Linked DNA regions of Homo sapiens. The protein of the gene in region 1 interacts with the protein of each later gene in a pairwise test. Each region holds a gene or a part of one and is shown in the gene's direction. Other genes may lie near its edges.

Region 1 (7,122 bases):
ATCACCAAAGCTTTTTGAGCAGAGGGTAATGTGGTAAACACTGAAGAGGAAAGGAAGCATGGTAGAGTCGGGAGACCATACGATCTCCATATTAGATGACTCTTTTTGCTTTTAGATCCATTGCAGAAGTCTTGTGGTCATTAGCTCCAGCAAAATGCTGTGTCGATTTTATCCTTTTGACATAAATATATATTCTCTACACTCATATTTAAAAAGTATTAAGCCTTCTGATACGCCACATAATGAGATAATGTTCTTTTTCATTTTATGGATCAAGTTTCTTCACTGTATGGATAGAATTATGTTTCTGCAGGTATTATTGGTATGGGTTCTGTTTCTGCAATCTTGATTGTTGTGACTGCAATTACTCAATTTCTCTAGGTAAAAAGGTGTTAAAAATAATGCATTTGAAATGGTTTTCTTATTGCAAATTTAGATTTGGATGGAGCCAGCCAACGGCGTTATTCTGAGAATCTCTCCTACGGTGAAGATGACCACATCCCTGCTCACTCACAGTCCCCATGTGAAAGAGGGGATGCCAAACACCACGGCACATCTCACCAAGAGTCCAGTGTGGTCCAAAGCCTCAGGCGCCAATCCACAGAGGGCAGCTTGGAGATGGAGACAGCTTTTAATAGCCGGGGATTTGAAGATTCCTATGCCACTGACAGCTCCTCCATGTGGAGTCCAGAGGCAAGTTATTTGTTTTTCATTCTTTCATTGGTTCCCTTTCCCCTTCCCCTCTTTCCACTCTCCTTTCTCATCTCTCTAAAAAAAAAAAAAAATTCCAGAAAGGAAGCATTACTTTTATCTGCAATAAATTTTTGTCCAGATGACCAAAATCCCATGCATGTCAATAAAAGAGTCATAAATTTCTCTCAAAATGGAAAAAAAAGGATGAACGGTAAAAAAAAAAAAAAAGAAAAAAAGAAAAAAAAATAAGAATGGTGGCAGAATGGATCCAGGAACAGCCAGGCTTTTCTTTTATATAAAGGCTTTTTATAGACTTAATTTTAAATAATGGAATTTTCAGTTCTTTAGAGGGACTGGTTTATTTACTTCATGGTTTCAATTAAGTGGAGTCTATTTTTATTTAGCCCAAATCTCAAGTTACGATTATTTGATATGAAAATTATTTGAAAATTGAACTAAAATGAAATGGCCTTCCAAGTGAAATTATACAAGGTGTAATGATGCAGATCTTGCACTGTGAATATATACAAAATATATTTTGTGCCTAGGAGACAGCATTAATCAGTAATGCCCCTCTGGCCATTGACATTGGTTTTGTAGTAAATCTCTGATAAAAGATACTTCTTCCAAAGTTCTTTTTCAAGTAAAGCTTAGTCCAGAATAAATGTAACAATCAATCCAGAGATATGGCTGGAGGTGATGATGGTAGTAGCTACCATTTATTGAGCAGTTAATATATGCCAGGCACTGTGATAAGGATTTTACCAAATTGTTTCCTTTTACTGGCCCTTACGGTTATTTTTCCATTAGATAGATCCCTCCTATCATGATTCTGTGACATTGGAAGGCATTAAGGAATGGTGTTTAATACCTAATTTGAAATTAATTTTGATGAAATAAGTCATATACATATATAAACCTTTAATATAATTTGCAGGGATGGGGGAAGAAGGAGAGAGGTGAATGGATTTTATTAGCATCCATTTGAGAAAATAAACAGGATGCATCTCTTATTAGGACTTGGAGTGTCACACACGCTAAATGCTCAAGGTAAAAAAAAAAAAAGGAATCACAGAAAACCCTGTTTCCAAGCCTTAACTGCTAACATGTTGGCGTGTGTAGGTAGTATCTAAGGAGGGGTATGCATACACATCTGTGCCCCTGTGTAGATGTCTCTGCTGAGGACCAGAAATGGTAGCTCACATATGTGGTTTGTGGCTTGTTAAAAAGCAGCCCTTCATATGGAGGCACCCAAAGCCATTAACTTTATACATTTTGTTTAAAAAAAGAAAAAACTCTGCTTACCCGTTAGTTTACTACCAAGCCGTATCAAATCCCACACACTAACTCTTAAAAAATATTTTGAATCTCTCTCCCAAAAACAAAACAGACCAAATGATTTGCCTGCCTATTGATACTCTGTCTCCTTGGTGATTGTGCCATGAGGCTTGGAAGTGACTTCTCCAGGTCACCTCCCATTTACCTGCCTGCTGGAGCTTTAATAGAAGACTCGGTATTGAGGGTACTAAATGTTCTCAGACTCCAAAAATACCCAGACATCTCTGTGTGCTCCATTCAACCTCCTATCTATTTTGAGAAAAAACTGTAATTTGGTGCTCCTACAGTAGAACCTCAAATCCAACTCGGAGGCAGTTCCCGTAACTGCCTGCTTTGCAGGCTTAGCTTGCCTTTTAAGAAATGATTTATTTGCCTCTTAGCTGTATTGAGAACTCTGTCTTCCCCTGTGTATCTGGCATCAGGAACATATTGTAGGCCTGTTTACTTTAGGCCACACAGATGACATCAACACTATCTTACTAAAACAGAAAGGCTTTCAATTTGACAGAAAATCTTTAAACCTACCTGGGTTTTGACAATTTGACACAAGTATTCTCATCTTAAGGAAAAGCCCAGGATATTGGAGCTCAAGGAATCATTTATTTTGTCTCAGCAGGAAACTGGTCGTGCAGTGTGACTACCTGTTAGGCTGATGGATTTTCGAGCTCTGCTCTTCTCTGCTGGCGAAGGCCTTTGGCTTTTTCCTGCAGACCCAGGGCTTGGCAGGAAAGACAATGGGAGTGTGGCTGGTGATTTTGAGCACACAGGGAGACAGGTGTCCCACTTTTCATCTCTGCTTTCCACTGATTAATTGGTTGGCCTTGAGAAGTTAATTAAAATCTGCCAAATGGGGATAAGAATGAAGAGATTTTTACCTTGCAGGAAGGTCAGATGGATTAGTGGTATTAACAGTACCCAAGTGAGGAGCTCCTTCAGTTGCCTGGTGAGAGGTAAAGTGTGTTGAAATAATTAATTGCTATGAAAATACCAGCATTCACAAATCTTTTTCTCAAATCAACCCAGGGAGGGGCTACAAAGCCCAGTTTTCATGGGCCACAGCTTGAATTGGCCTATCCAAAGCCCAGCCATTGGCAGGATCTGTTTATTCAGAGGAGTTCTTAGGACAGTCAGGAGCTCTACCCAGGACTCTCTTAGAAACCTGCAGGTGGAGTGAGCATTTATCCGAAGAGACAGCCTGATACATAAGTGGAGAGAGCTCCTCATTCACTAAAATATTTTTACCTTGGCATTGAAGTTGACAAAACTAAGAGCTATTAACTAACATTAAGAGCAGGGGCCTCAAAGGATGTGAAAACCACAGAGAGTGTGATTCCAACCCCCACCTTCCGTCTTCTCCCCCTTCATCTTGTGCGCTTGCTCTCTCTCTCTCTCTCTCTAGTGCTCTCTCGCTCTCTCTCTCTCTCTCTATATATATATATATAAACACACACACACACACACACACACATATGTCTATATGTAGAAATAGTTATGCCTAAAGGTTTGGGGAAGAAGAAAGGAGACTGTATGTTTCAAAATAAGGTTTGAAATTTTGAGTATTGGATACGAGTTAAGGCAGGCCTGGGACTCAAACTGCCAGGGCATGAGTCCTGGATAATCTTGTCTGGGAATTTGATCTGGGCTTGGGGGGAGAGAGCGTGTTAGTTATTTAGTCTTTCTAAGCTTGAGTTTCGTCCTCCATAAAATGAAGATATTAAAATACCTACCTCATTGCATTGATGTAAATATTCAAAAAGATAATGTTTCTTAGTTGGGTTCCTCAAAAAAGCAGAGCCTACGTAAAGGCTTTGTTCCCTGCTTTGGGAGTGCAACCCCAGGGAACAAAAGTGCGAGACAAGGGAAGTAAGGCAGGGAAGAAGGGAGGTCAAGTGTGAGAATACACAGTTGAATTGGCCACCACTCAGTATGGCTAATTGCCTGATCTTGTGTGATCACACTCCAAGAAGCTGTATGAACTGATAGGACAACTGACTACGGGGCAAAAAGTAGACTTCACATATATTGGTGTCAAGCAGGGTTCTGCAGCTGTCTAAGCCTTGGCGGTCGACAGAGAGACCAATGATAAGAAATGAGAATTATATTGTGTGGGTAGAAGGTAAGACTTTATTGAGTAGTTCCAGGCTGAAACTACTTAGAGCCCATATAGGCTGTGCCTTAGGGGAAGATGGAACATGAGTTAAGGCCAAGAAGATCTGAAGTGTTTAAGAGCCAATTTTTATAGTCTGTAAAGGATTTGATATGGTATTTGGCATAAGAAATAGTTTAGTAGATGTTAGCTATTATTACTTATGGTCAGAAATGCAATACAGAGATGATCAAGAGTAGGCTAAAATAGATGGGAGTTTTAGGAAGAGACAAGGGAGTTTGAGAGAAGATTCTGACTTGATTTTTGAGTTGGCCTAAATCCTTGGAGACTTGCTTCTAATATATATACACTAGTCAGTTGTATTCAAAAGTCTCTATAGCAACCACTTTTATCACTTGAAACTAAGTACCTCTGAATAGAAACACTCACGCATGATTGCATGCTCACAGGAAAGGATATAAGAAGCTTCACTTATTTTACAAGAAATCTAAATTTTCTTGCAGGCTAATTTGAATCTTAAAAGAAAAGGATATTTATTAGATGTCTACTGTCTGTCAAGTCCTCTACTTTTTACAACATCCCTACACAGAAGGTACCATCTCCATTTTACAGTTGAGGAAAATAGAACATGGAAAGGATTAAATGACTTGCCCAGTGTCATAGAGCTAGTAAGTGGTAGGCCTGGGCTTCCTAAGGAAATACGAACCCAGAGAACCATGAACTTTCACCCAGACTATGTGGGAAAGTTTCATTGATGGATGCACATTTTGAGGCATTGTATTATAATTTGAAACGAGATCTCTAAATTAGCAAGTTCTGGTGTTCAATTGCATAAATAAGAACTGGTTTGCAATAAGAATCAGATCAAAGTTTAGTTACAGGTAAGGATCATGCCTTCAGAGGAAAATAGAATTATTATTGACATTATTTATAATTTGTTAGTGGGGTGGTTCATTATAATAAATGCAGCCTAGCTCAGTTTTCCCAGTAAGGTCATCAGATCTGAGTGGCTGCATGTAAATTGCTACCCAAGGGTGACATTCCATAAAGAGGGATGTGTGTTTGAGAATAGGTAGCACCAGTCCAGTGGTGGGAATAGATATTTATGCAGTCTGGTCTAAGCCAGGTATTTTCATATCAATGAAAACCTCACAACAACACACCAGCAAGTAGGCACATTAATGTGCATTTTTAAGCTAGACTACCGAGAGGCTGGTCTATTTGGCCAGGGTAAAAAAGCTAGTCAGTGGTAGAGTTATGATTTCAATTTAGGTGTTCTGGCTCCAGGCTCAGTGTTGCTGTTTACTAAAGGGCTGTGGAGGTGTCCTCCTAAATCCTTGCTGCTCAAAGTGTGAGCCGAGGCTAGCAGCGTCAACATCCCTTGTGCCTGTCCCAGAAATGGCAGGATCTCAAGCTCCACTCCAGACCTACTGAATCAGAATCCTCAGATGATTTAGGTCTACATTAAAGTTTGAGAAGCTCAGCCCTAAACCTTTTCTCCCACTTAGATTGAAAATATACTGAAGCATCACCTTCCTGGGACTCCCATCAAAATTCTTGTCTGTAGAAAGCTCTTGCCTGTGGAGAACAGGCTCAGGCTCAACCATCTGTATTTAGGGACACAAGGAAAAGTTGCCTATGGACAATTGCCTGTTGACTTAATTTTAGATTTAGCATCTCAGTTGGTTTCAATGATCCTGGGCAATTGTGCTTTTTGAGAGGCAGTATATATGAAAACACTTTGCAAAAATATAAAAGCTTTAGTTATCCATTCCAAAAACATTCACGAAGGCGCACCATATGCTAGGCACTTTGCCGTCAAAGAATTCACAGTTTAATGCAGCGATAGACCAGTAAACAGACCTATCTGATATAGAGGGAATACACTGGCAGTTAGAAAGCAGGGATTCTGAAGGAGCACAAAGGGGCACCAACTGGCCAAAATGTAATTGGGTATCATCATTTCCATTTCTAATTGTTTCCTCTGCCTGCAACAGGAACAGGACAGGACCAATTTGCAGGTGCCATCCGGGGTCTCAGAGCCCATCTCAAAGTGTGGTGACCTAGATGTCATCTTTGAATATAGAGCCGCCAGCCAGAAGCTCACAGTGACCATTGTGAGGGCACAGGGCCTCCCAGATAAGGACCGAAGTGGTGTCAACTCCTGGCAAGTTCATGTAGTGCTGCTGCCTGGTAAGAAACACAGGGGCAGGACGAACATACAGAGAGGGCCCAACCCCGTCTTCAGGGAGAAGGTCACCTTTGCCAAGCTGGAGCCCAGAGATGTGGCTGCCTGTGCTGTCCGCTTCCGCCTGTACGCTGCCCGGAAGATGACCCGAGAGAGAATGATGGGAGAGAAACTATTCTATCTCAGCCACCTGCACCCAGAAGGGGAAATGAAAGTGACTCTGGTTCTGGAGCCAAGAAGTAATATAAGCGTGAGTATGTTAAATGGTGCTGCTAATGATGTGGTGTGTTCGAAGACCTGGGATTGTCAGCCCTTGATTTAGTACGTTCAGTCTGTGAATTCAGAGACTTTAATTTAATTTTCCATTTGGCTCTCCTCACCCTTGTAAGCCATGATTTGCACTTCATGGTACAATGGGTCTTTCATGCCTGTCTTCCTGATAACCTGATGGATAAATGCCCTGTCCATTTTAGGACAAAATAGCAGCAGTGTGGTAGAGGGCATGGAGAAAAACAGGGAAGGTGGCTTGGCCCTCTGGATTGTGGATAACTGATCCTACTCCTCCTGCCCCCAATCTGCATCATGATGAATCTCAGAGATGGGACTTTCTGGGCAAGGTTCTTAACGGGTATGCTGGGGCAGACTGAGAGAGCAGCCCAGAACTTCAGCTGCTTCTGAAACCTTTCATTTGTGTTACTACCGTCTTCCCTCATACCCCATTTCCCTGCTTGCCACAGGGTTTCAAGGAAAGGTGTCATAATTTACATGCCTACAGGATGGGCAGCTCACTACTGCT
Region 2 (7,122 bases), on another chromosome or scaffold:
AGATATCATCCTTTTTTTGGTTTTGTTTGGTTTTGTTGTGAATTTTGCCCTATCTGTTACCCTGAAAATGAGAGACAAAAGCCTACTTCAAGATTTGAGTTCATTGTTCCACTAGGAATCCAGGTCCGATAGAAATATGATGTGAGTCACGTATGTAATTTAGAATTTTTCTAGTAGCCACATGTAAGAAGTAAAAAGAAATAGGTAAAATTAATTTTGGCTGGGCATAGTGGCTCCCGCCTGTGATCCTAGCACTTTGGGAGGCTGAGGTGGGTGGATCACTTGAGATCAGAAGTTCGAGATCAGCCTGGCGAACATGGTAAAACCCCATCTCTACTAAAATTACCAAAATGAGCAGGTGTGGTGGTAAGGCCTGTAGTCCCAGCTACTCGGGAGGCTGAGGCAGGAGAATCACTTGAACCCAGGAGGCGGAGGTTGCAGTGAGCTGAGATTGTGCCACCGCACTCCAGCCTGGGCGACAGAGCGAGATTCCGTCTCCAAAAAAAAAAAATTATTTTTAATAATGTTTTTATTCAACCTAAGATATCAAAAATATTTCAACATGTAATCATTTATACAAAATTATTAATGAAAAAAGATTCTTGAAACATTGTACCTTCTTTTTTGAACTCCCTCTTCAAAACCCCCCGTGCGCATATTTTACACTTCTAGCACATTTCAATTCGAGTTAGCCACTTTTTAGGTATTCAGTGGCCACTCAGTGGCAATGAGACTTCAGATAGCGTTATGTTTTCTTGCATATTTATCCTTATTGCTTTCTTCTATATGTCTTTCAGCATTTTGTCAGGGAAAAGAAAACAGCTTTCAGAGATAATACTGTTAACATTTTGTATGTCATTCTAGACCTTTTTTCTATGCAATATACCTATAAAAATACATATGTATATGTAACAAAATGAACTATTTTGTGGTGTATTTTTTTTTGTATTGGATAGCACAGCGGGTCTACTCGAAGAGATGCTTGTTTGCAATCTACAACAATAAATTCTGGACTTGCTCCAGAATTTATTTGGCACTCTTTGTGGATTTACCAAGCTATTTTTAAATTGGACAAGCAGCTTTCTCGCCAGCTGGCGGGGACTCTTGTTATTAAAAGTTAGCTCAGTAAGAAGGGTCCTCCTGCCTGTTCCACATTTACAGCTGATTCTCATTAACCATGGTAGTTACGTTCTATAAAGTTACTGCAGACACTGAATTAGCACATACCAAACCATCGCTCCTAGGGGAAATACAGGATTCAGTTGCTGTGAGCCTCCTGTTCACAACATTTTTGTCAGCTGATCAGTACATAACCTCGTTTTATGTGTATTTCTGTTTAAAGACATGTTAATATATATTGTTGATCATTAACGTTGAACTCAGGGCCAACAACAGTACTATGACTCATGTCTTAAACAAAGCTAATCACACACATGTATTTTCTGCATAAGGCACATCACAGCCTTCTCATGGTTAGGAACGCTAGAGAACACTTCAGCACTACACTTGGGGACCATTTTCAACAGTAAAATCACCAAACTAAAGCATAAACGTGGCACTAAATAGACCACAGTGACACTTGTTTAAAGGATGAAACAGGAAGGCTCGGTGTCACCTTGCTTGACCTCAGCTGGGAATGTACGTGGCAGGTGACTCCACTTTTTGCTGTTGTGGACGTGTCCACTAATGACCTCAAAAGCACTGCAGGCCAGGCGTGGTAGCTCACACCTGTAATCCTAGTACTTTGGGAGGCCGAGGCGGGTGGATCCCTTGAGCCAGAAGTTCAAGACCAGCCTGGCCAACATGATGAAACCCCTTCTCTACGAAAAATACAAAAATTAGCTGGGTGTGGTGGTGTGCGCCTGTAATCCTAGCCTCTTGGGAGGCTGAGGCACGAGAATCGCTTGAACCCAGGAGGTGAAGGTTGAAGGGAGCCAAGATCACACCACTGTACTCCAGCCTGGGTGACAGAGCAAGACTCTATCTCAGACAAAACAAAACAAAACAAAAAGCACTGCCAGTATTCATTTTGAGGTTACAAATAAATTTCAGTGAGGAGGCAAATTTACAAATATGGAATCATGAGTAATAAGGATTGACTGCATATTTCTTGGCACTGACTGTATGCCAAGCACTGCACTAGGCATTCACCCTGGCCCTGTCTGAACTTAGTTAATAGTCACGTTCACCTGCCTTTTTTGTTTGTTTGTTTTTGTATTTTTAGTAGAGACGGGGTTTCTCACCATTTTGGCCACGCTGATCTCCAACTCCTGACCTCAGGCAATCCACCCACTTCGGCCTCCCAAAGTGCTGGGATTATAGGCGTGAGCCACCGCACCTGGCCACCAGTGGTTGTAAATGGTCCTGACCCTTCGTCTTTCTCCTGTTAGGAAGAGATAATGAATCATTGATTGTTTTTTGCATTCTGATACCAGGGAATTTGCCTGGCTCCTGAATCATCCAAGTTTCAGTCTTCATGTTCTCAAATACTGGCCACTTTGTCCCTAGTTTAGAAGCCAACCGCCTTTGTCTGACCTTGGGCAAGTCACTTAGGCTCACTGAATTTCCATCTCCTTTTTTAAAATTTTTTATTTATTTTTTATTGAGACAGAGTCTCACTCTGTCTTCCAGGCTGGAGTATAGTGGTGTGATCATGGCTTACTGTAGCCTCGAACTTCTGGTCTCAAGCAACACCTCCAGCCTCAGCCTCCTGAGTAGCTGGGACTACAGGTGCACACCAGCATACTCAGCTAATGTTTTATTTTATTTTTTGGAGAGACAGCATCTTTCACTGTGTTGCCCAGGCTGGTCTCAAACTCTTGGCCTCAAGCAGTCCTCCTGCCTTGGCCTCCTGAAGTGCTGGGATTACAGAAGTGAGCCACCATGCCCAGCTGCCATCTCCTCTTTTCTAAAATGAGCAATGTCAGGCTCAGAGGTTTGTTATGAAGATTATCTGAGATGCTGTTTGAAGCTTTAGCACAGAGGGTGGCGCATAATGTTGTCAGTCTGTCTCAGCCTGGCCTTCCTGGGCTCTGCAGTGCTGCACTGTGCTTACAGAGCCTAGATTGGGTAACCTGTGTCTACCTCCAGGCTGGTGATGGAAAATCACAGTGCATGTTACTGAATAATAACCTCTCCCACTTTCCATCTTTCCATTGCATCCCCCTCTGTTGCCATGAGAATGAAATGTTAATTGCTACGTTCTACCCCCCTGAGTTTAAATAGTGTTAGGTCGTTCTTTTTTACCTACCTCGTAGCATTGTAGGAAGAAATAAATGAGGAAATAATACGAGAGGTGCTTAAAGCAGTGCCCAGCACCTGAGTGTTTAATGAATGTTCTCTGTTATTATTAGGTGTGGTTGAATCGTGTCCTCCCCTCCTGGGACAGACTGGCTGGAGCTCAGCTGTACTTCCTGGGAGAAGACAATTTCTGGGTTTAATCATCTGAATCTTGGTCTCTTTGCATATCTAAATGACTTTCTCTTTGATTATAGAGCCCAGACTCGGAAAAGACTAAGAATGGCGGGGCATGGTGGCTGATGCTTATAATCCTAGCACTTCGGGAGGCCGAGGCGGGCAGATCACTTGAGGTCAGGAGTTCGAGACTAGCCTGGCCAACATGGTGAAACCCCATCTCTACTAAAAAATATAAATATTAGCTGGAAATCGCCTGAACCTGGGAAGCGGAAGTTGCAGTGAGCCGAGATCATGCCATTGCACTCTAGCCTGGGCAATAGAGTGAGATTCCATCTCAAAAAAACAAAAGGCTAAGAAAAAGGTGGATTCCTTAAGGACTGAAGTGGAACAGTCTTGCCTGTTTCCTTTTATATCCCTGTGCCATACAGTCCCTAAGTCCTGTGTATTCCTTCTTTTGTCATTCCACTTTCATACCCATCTACCCCTCCCCCTTCTCTTCCCTCTCTGCCATCAGCCTGGACTTGACCACAGTATATCTTGCCTGATTTCCTGCAAATCTTTCTACCTGCCTCTTGCACATGATTGCTAGGTTCATATTTCTTAAATCATTCCTTTAATCATGTCATAGTTCTGCTCAAATGACAGCAGTTTGTTCCCTGTTTTTTTTTTCCCAGATGAAATTTAAATGAGTGCTGTCTAGCAGAAATATTATGTGAGCCACATATATAATTTTAAGTTTTTTAATAATTACATTAAAAACAAAAAGAAACAAATGAGATTAATTTTATTTATTTATTTATCTTGAGATGGAGTCTCGCTCTGTCGCCCAGGCTGGAGTACAGTGGCGTGATCTCGGCTCACTGCAACCTCTGACTCCCGGGTTCAAGTGATTCTCCCGCCTCAGCCTCCCAAGTAGCTAGGATTACAGGCACGCACCACTCTGCCTGACTAATTTTTTTGTATTTTTACTAGAGACGGGGTTTCACCATGTTGACCAGGCTGGTCTTAAGCTCCAGATCTTAAGTAATCTGCCCACCTCAGCCTCCCAAAGTGCTGGGATTACAGGTGTGAGCCACCGTGCCCAGCCAGAGATTAATTTTAATAATATATTCTCAATTTAACACAATATATCCAAAACACTATAATTTCAACAGGTAATATAAAAAAGTATTAATGAGATATTTTGCATTTTTTTTTCTTACACTTAAAGCACATCTCAATTCTGATGCCAAATTTTCATTGGAAATATTTAATCTCTATTCAGATTTTATAAAACTTACAATTCAGCGAAATAGATTCACATACCCAACCTATTGGAAACATACTTAAAATTTTTCCAACAACTGAATCAAGTCTCAGCTTTAAAATTTAAATTAAATTAAATTGGAAATCCAGGCCATCAGTCACAGGAGGAGCATTTCAAGTGCTGAATGGCGCAGGTGGCCTGTGATGGACAGCCCGGGGATAAGCTAGCAAGCCCAGTGTCCTGGTGTCCCAGCCTCACAAGTTCCTTCCGCTGCACAGCCCTTCCCTCGCTGGCGCAGCATACTCACGGGTGTACTGCTGCCTCCCTTTCCTGGAGAGCCCATCTGCTCTCCCCACTGTGGTTCTTTGGATTGTAAAGATCAGGTGACACAGGGAGCATCAAATAAGGATGCATGTGGATTCGAACTGGAAAGAAGTCAGGACCTGAGACAGCGCAAGGGACCAGCCCACATTCTGTGTGGTGACTCCCACGGCTCCTCCGCCTCTCTTTCTCTTTCAGCTGCCCCAACACAGCAGGATCTCACTGGACTCTGATGATGGAGTGTCCAGGCTGGGCAGTGCTGGCTCCAAGGTGATTCCTGCTACAGTCATCTCTGGCTAGAGAAGCGGAATAGCAAGCTCTTTGGTGGCTTTTGTCAGAATGGTGGGGTAGCAGGAGGCAGTGAGGTCAGCGGGCATTATGCCGTCCTGTGGCCTGGCAGGGAGTGAAATTGGCCATGCCTCGAGAGTAATCCTTAGGAGACCACGCTGAAGCCCAAGACCAATGGCTGTGGCTTCTTGGCATGGCCTCTTTTATTTAAGCAGGGTGCAGCTTGCACTTTAGTTCCTTCAGCATGAACCACAAACCCCTCCTGCCTTCCAACTCGCCCTGAAAATCCCACTGTTTAAACCACTTGGGTAAACTCTTCTTCCTAGGAGGCACATGTGTTTTGGGGACCTGAATTATGTCTTCTTTTCATCTGTTGGCCTGCAAGGCCGTAGGGATGAGGCTCAGGAAGGACCAGTTATGATGGAAGGAGGTTCTGGAATAATGGTTCCTTTCAAGTGAACAGGATCTAGAATACCAGTACTGAGGAGAGAGAAGGCGTGGAGCCTAAGGAGGAGAGGGGGAAACCCATCTTTGCGGATTTGCCTATGGCCAGCTCTGCGTTAAAGCAGTCTCCCTCCATTGAGTCAGATCGAAAATTCCTTTTTGCCCGGTGAAGGAAAATAAACTATTAACACAACATAAACTTGCATTAGTCACAGGCTGTGGCCAACTATGGTAACCAGGTTGATGACATAAAAGCATTTTTACTTGATGTGGTGGCAGCTGTTGCAAGCATTGGACATTCTGAGTCCAAGACCTTAGGTTTGTTTTTTTTTTTTTGAAAAGGAGACTTGCGGTGGGGCGCGGTATCCCACGCCTGTAATCTCAGCACTTTGGGAGGCCAAGGCGGGTGGATCGCCTGAGGTCAGGAATTCGAGACCAGCCTGGACAATATAGTGAAACCCTGTCTCTACTAAAAATACAAAACTTAGCTGGGCGTGGTGGGGGCGCCCGTAATCCCAGCTACTCGGGAGGCTGAGGCGGGAGAATGGCTTGAACCCGGGAGGCGGAGGTTGCAGTGAGCCGAGATCTTGCCATTGCACTCCAGCCTGGGCGACAAGAGCAAAACTCCATCTCAAAAAAAAAAAAAGAAAGAAAGAAAAGAAAAGGAGACTTGCTCTGTCATCCAGGCTGGAGTGCAATGGCGCCATCTTGGCTCACTGCAACCTCCGCCTTCCAGGCTCAAACGATTCTCGTGCCTCAGCCTCCCTAGTAGCTGGGACTACCAGCACGCGCCACCATGCCTGGCTGATTTTTGTATGTTTAAAAGAGACAGGGTTTCACCATGTTAGCCAGGCTGTTCTTGAACTCCTGACCTCAGGTGACCCGCCTGCCTCCACCTCCCAAAGTGCTGGGATTACAGGTATGAGCCACCATGCTGGCCAGGCCTTAGCTTTTAATGCTGAGATTTTGCCACTTGGAGGCTGTGCGACTCTAGACAAGTGATTAGCTTTTAATGCTGAGCTTAGCTTTTAATAGACAAGTGAATAGACAAGTGATTAGCTTTTAATGCTTACTAATAGACAAGTGATTAGCTTTTAATGCTTAATAATGCTTTTAATAATAATGCTTTTAATAATTATAATTATAATAAATAATATATAAATAATATAATACATATTATAATTATATACATATATAAATATAATATATTTATATAATATATAATAATGCTATATGAATATTGATAACTAATATTAGTATAATATATCTAATATAATTATACAATATTATAATTATGATTTTTATATTACATTACAATTATATTTTTATATATAATTATATATATATTTTTAATATTATATTATATTTTTATTTTATATATTATAATTATAAATATTTTTATATTT
Region 3 (4,218 bases), on another chromosome or scaffold:
GAAAGATCAGGGGCCCTGGAAGCCACCAGAAGCTTGGACTAGGAAGGGAGAGCTGAGCCTCCAGGGCCGTGGCATCTGTTGGCCATGTGCTGGGACGGGAGGGAGCACTGGTGGCCATGCCACAGTGACAAGGTGAAGGCCCTGGATGGTCCACAAGACACAGCCTGGGTTTCTCTCCAGATCGCAGGCCCAGCCAGCAGGCATGGGGCCCCCAGCCTCAGTACTGATGCTTTATACTTTGTGTAGTTTTAAGAAGAATTGTGTCTTTCAAGGGAGTAAGAGAAGGATGTTTCTGTGGTTAGGGCAGTACATGTCTGTGAGCTACATGCAAAGGGTCCTGCTGCTGCTGTGCCCAGGGTAGACCCCTCCTTTCCACAGGGATGCTTCTGTTTGCGGGGACGGTCGGTGCAGCTGCAAGGCTGGAGGCGGCCGGCAGGTGCCCGGTGCTGGCTGCAGATGCGGCGCTAACCTTCTCTCCCCACTTGAAGGCATGCGGCTACCAAGGGCATCCTTGTGGCTATGGTCTGTACTTTCTTCGACGCTTTCAACGTCCCGGTGTTCTGGCCGATTCTGGTGATGTACTTCATCATGCTCTTCTGTATCACGATGAAGAGGCAAATCAAGGTAAAGCAGAGGCGCTGCCGCCACGCCGGCCGCAATCGCTGTTCTGTTACCCGCAGCATTGGGGGAGCTGTGCTGGGCTGTGGTGGGTGGTGGCAGAGTCTGCCTGGTGTGAATGTGGAGCTAAGTGGCACCGTCTTGTGTGTGACGAGGACACTGCTCCGTTCCCAGCACGGCCGGCTAACTAAACGGGGAGCGCAGCTGTGGGAGCGGGCGGGCTCTTGGTGGAAACTTTGTGGAAGCCGGGTGGGAGAGCCCCGGCGAGTGCAGTGTCCCGGTGGCTCCTCTTAGGGTGCCCAGTGCCCCGCGCCAGCCTGCCCGAGGAGGAGGGTGTTAGGGGGAAGTTAGCCGAGACTGCGGACTGTGCCCTTGACGGTGTGGCCTTCGTGCTGCGGGCCTCACTCTGTGCCCGGGGTGTTGGCTGCAGAGAGGGCCCTGGGCCACCTCACATCCCCCTTGCCCTTCCTCCACGGGAGGCTCACGAAGCACTGGGATTGATGGGGTTTCAAACCTAGGCCTCGTGGGCTGTGGAAGGTCTTGCTGTGTTGATGTGGGCGCAGGAAGCCACTGGGGCTCCGATTCCACTTGTCTGATGTATAGAAAAGATGGGGGACCTTTGGCCGCTCAGATTTGGGGACAGTGTGACTGACTGGAGAGCGGTTGTGCAGTAACTGAGTCTGTGTTTCTCTCCCCAGCACATGATTAAGTACCGGTACATCCCGTTCACACATGGGAAGAGAAGGTACAGAGGCAAGGAGGATGCCGGCAAGGCCTTCGCCAGCTAGAAGCGGGACTGAGGCTGCCTCACGTGTTGCAAGAACAGTTTTGAGCCATTGTTAACAATGCCTTTTTTCTTCACATAAAGTAGTTGATTACGAGGGAGTCAAATTTTCTTTTTAAAAAGGAGCTTCAATGATTTGTAACTGAAATATCAGGTTCTAGAAGAAACTGGCGCTTAAACCAAATCGCATGGATTTCTTTTTCAGTGACGTTCAAGTGTTTCTCACGGATGGAATTCTAGTCAGCTGCAGGCGGGAAGCCAGGCGGGTGGAGCCCATGGGAGCAAGGGCGAGTGGCCGGTCCCCGCTGTGCCAGGTGGGCAGGCAGGAGCAAGGCCTGCGAGGGAGGAACGGGCCGCTCCCCGCCAGCCGCCTTCCCCAGCAGCCGCAGGTGGTGCCAGCCACTCCACAGAGCCCGAGGGATGATCTAGCCTGATTCCTGCGTGTCCGAAAGAACTTAACGTTTTAAAGGTGATTGTCAAGTAACTGTGTGGGGTTCTAATGCCAGTTTCCTAATTCCATCTCACTGGAGATGTTTAAAGTTGGCCTCTATCCTAATGACTCAAAACTTGGTTCTTAACTACCATGATTGCTTTTGAGGGCCCGGAATTATAAATATATATTATATTTTAATTGTTTGAGATTATTTTGACACATTTCTTTGATACGTAGAGTGTTTTGTTTTTAATTTAAATCTGTCCTCATGCAACCCTCCATGAGGGGCAGCGAAGCTGGCAGGGAGCAGACTGGCTTTGTAGGTTCAGCACTCGGCCCCCCACTGCGGGAGAGGCGGAACCCACTTGCATGTCAGCGTTTTTGATTCGAGAAAAGAAATACTCTCAACGTTTTACCAAGTGATTTTACCTCCACCTTTACTAAAGTCTTTACCTAAAACATGGCAGTCGCTGGACACAGGAAAGCCCACCTTTTGTTTGGCCTTTTCGAAAGGTGACCCATATTGCACAGCAGAACATCACAGCTGTGGTCCCAGATGAGACACTGACATGCGAGTGAAGGCCTCTCCTCCTGGGCCCCGGGCTGCGCAGGCTCCTCACTCTGGGCGGTGTTTCCTGTCTCAGAATTGACACGGTGAATGCTTAGTGTCTGGATTTTCTTGTACCAGTGTTTACATATCTGACATCGAGCTCCTCTAAGAGGCCACGTTCAAGCTTGTGTGTCCCTGACCCAAGATAGCCAGTGCTGCTCCCAGGTGGTACTTCTGGTACCGTGTTGAGACACTTGGGATTCTCAGACTGTGGACAGGAGTGTTTGTCATTTTTCATACTGTTTTCTTAATAAGCGCTCAGGCCTAAGGTGTGACAGGAAGTCGCACGCGCTTGGCCAGAGCACAGTGAAGCAAAGGACTGGGTGCTGATGGATGGAGCCACGGCGGCATCTGCCCACCCGGCCGCAGCCCCCAGTGCCTCTCCTGGTGGTCCTCCCAGTCTAGAGGGTCACGGCCCCCCCGCCCTCCTCCGTCTCTGGCAAGCTGACCTTGACTAACCCAGGAATACAGGGTCATCCTCATTCCTAAGTAAGTCAAACAGCAAGACATGGTTTGCGCGGGTCTTTGCCGGAAGCCGGTCCTGCTGGCCAGGTGTTTTACGTCAGCAGGGAAATGTGGCACACGCCCTCGAGGCATTTTAACACTGCGCTTCAGGAAATCTCAAGTTCCATCTTGTGTTAGTAACGTACCCACATTTTGCTGGAGTTAGTTTATTAAAGATGCCTACGGTGAACTCTCTGGCGCAGGTTAAATGCAGTTTTGAAAACCTGGAAACATCAAATGGAGGCGGGAAATAGGCTGGGGCCGAGCTGAGGGGCTGAACACAGCAGTGACCGTGGGTCAGCAGGTCGCCTGCCCAGCAGGCCCCCCAGGAGAGGGCTCGGGCGCCCCTGGCAGCCCCCATACCCCCAGGACCTGGCTCGTGAGTGCGTCTGGGTCAGGAAGAGACCTCTCTGTGCGTCTCAGGCTGAGATGCAGATTTCTGTTTTCTAAAACTGGAAGCGACCTTGACGTGTATTGAAGGTGTGTGTGCCAAATGCTTCCGACGGAGGTGCTGGCCTTGGTTGGTTTCTCTCTGCCCCGTGTGGTCATCAAGTCCTGGGGGATGTGCTCTGCCCAGCCGCCCTCGGGGAGAGCAGCGCCGCCTCCCATGGGGCCGTGGGGCTGCTGTTCTCACTGCACTGGCTGAAGCAACCCGCCAGCCTCCGTGCCCCACCCCACCCAGCACGCACTCATTCAGTCCATTGCCTTAACACAAGCCTGATGGGGCTGTTTTCTCACAATATAAACGAATAAAGTGTCTTCTGGCCTACTTCTGAATTACTTCTCAACTGTATGGTTTGGGGAAGGGAGGGAAACCTAAAATCCCGTCCAAATAAGTGAAATTCCTGAAGAAGTGGCTGAGTCCTACCAGGTTGGGGTTAGGGAAATGTTCTGGGTTCAGGCGCCCCTCCCAGGGCTGAGAAAGCGCAGCCAGGGACAGCTTTCTGTTCTCTCCCAGGGTGGCTAGGTTAGTATCTTACATGACAAAAAACTGAGAGTGTTCTAACTTCTGTGCAAGCAAGGTTAATCCTGAGACTAAATCTTGGCGTTCAGACTCCCGTAGAGGTCATCTGTGTCCAGGCCCACCCGGGCGCCGGCTCAGCGGTAGTGCCGAAGGTAGATGAGCTTCTGGGGAGGGAACTTCTCCCGGCAGAGGGGACACTCCGCCTGCGGAGAGGAGAAAGGGGGTCACAGCAGCTGGGGCCACTGGGCCATGCCCATCCCCATCGGCATTTCTTTTCCTGTCCACATTCTCTGCACATGACACAC

The links.
Region 2: the proteins of SYT16 (region 1) and LDAF1 interact in binary tests that used the Homo sapiens proteins (3 or more experiments, as listed by UniProt).
Region 3: the proteins of SYT16 (region 1) and RER1 interact in binary tests that used the Homo sapiens proteins (3 or more experiments, as listed by UniProt).

The regions. Positions count from the first base shown.
Region 1 is NC_000014.9:62,074,699-62,081,820, forward strand, and holds part of SYT16 (synaptotagmin-16), read left to right. Parts: intron 1-436; coding exon 437-693; intron 694-6,135; coding exon 6,136-6,576; intron 6,577-7,122. UniProt on the Homo sapiens protein: May be involved in the trafficking and exocytosis of secretory vesicles in non-neuronal tissues. Is Ca(2+)-independent.
Region 2 is NC_000016.10:21,161,658-21,168,779, forward strand, and holds part of LDAF1 (lipid droplet assembly factor 1), read left to right. Parts: intron 1-5,182; coding exon of another isoform or gene 5,183-5,254; intron 5,255-7,122. UniProt on the Homo sapiens protein: Plays an important role in the formation of lipid droplets (LD) which are storage organelles at the center of lipid and energy homeostasis. In association with BSCL2/seipin, defines the sites of LD formation in the endoplasmic reticulum.
Region 3 is NC_000001.11:2,401,719-2,405,936, forward strand, and holds the end of RER1 (protein RER1), read left to right. Parts: intron 1-488; coding exon 489-624; intron 625-1,316; coding exon 1,317-1,406; 3' UTR 1,407-3,718; downstream 3,719-4,218. Other genes in the region: PEX10 (peroxisome biogenesis factor 10), read right to left, coding at 4,048-4,116. UniProt on the Homo sapiens protein: Involved in the retrieval of endoplasmic reticulum membrane proteins from the early Golgi compartment.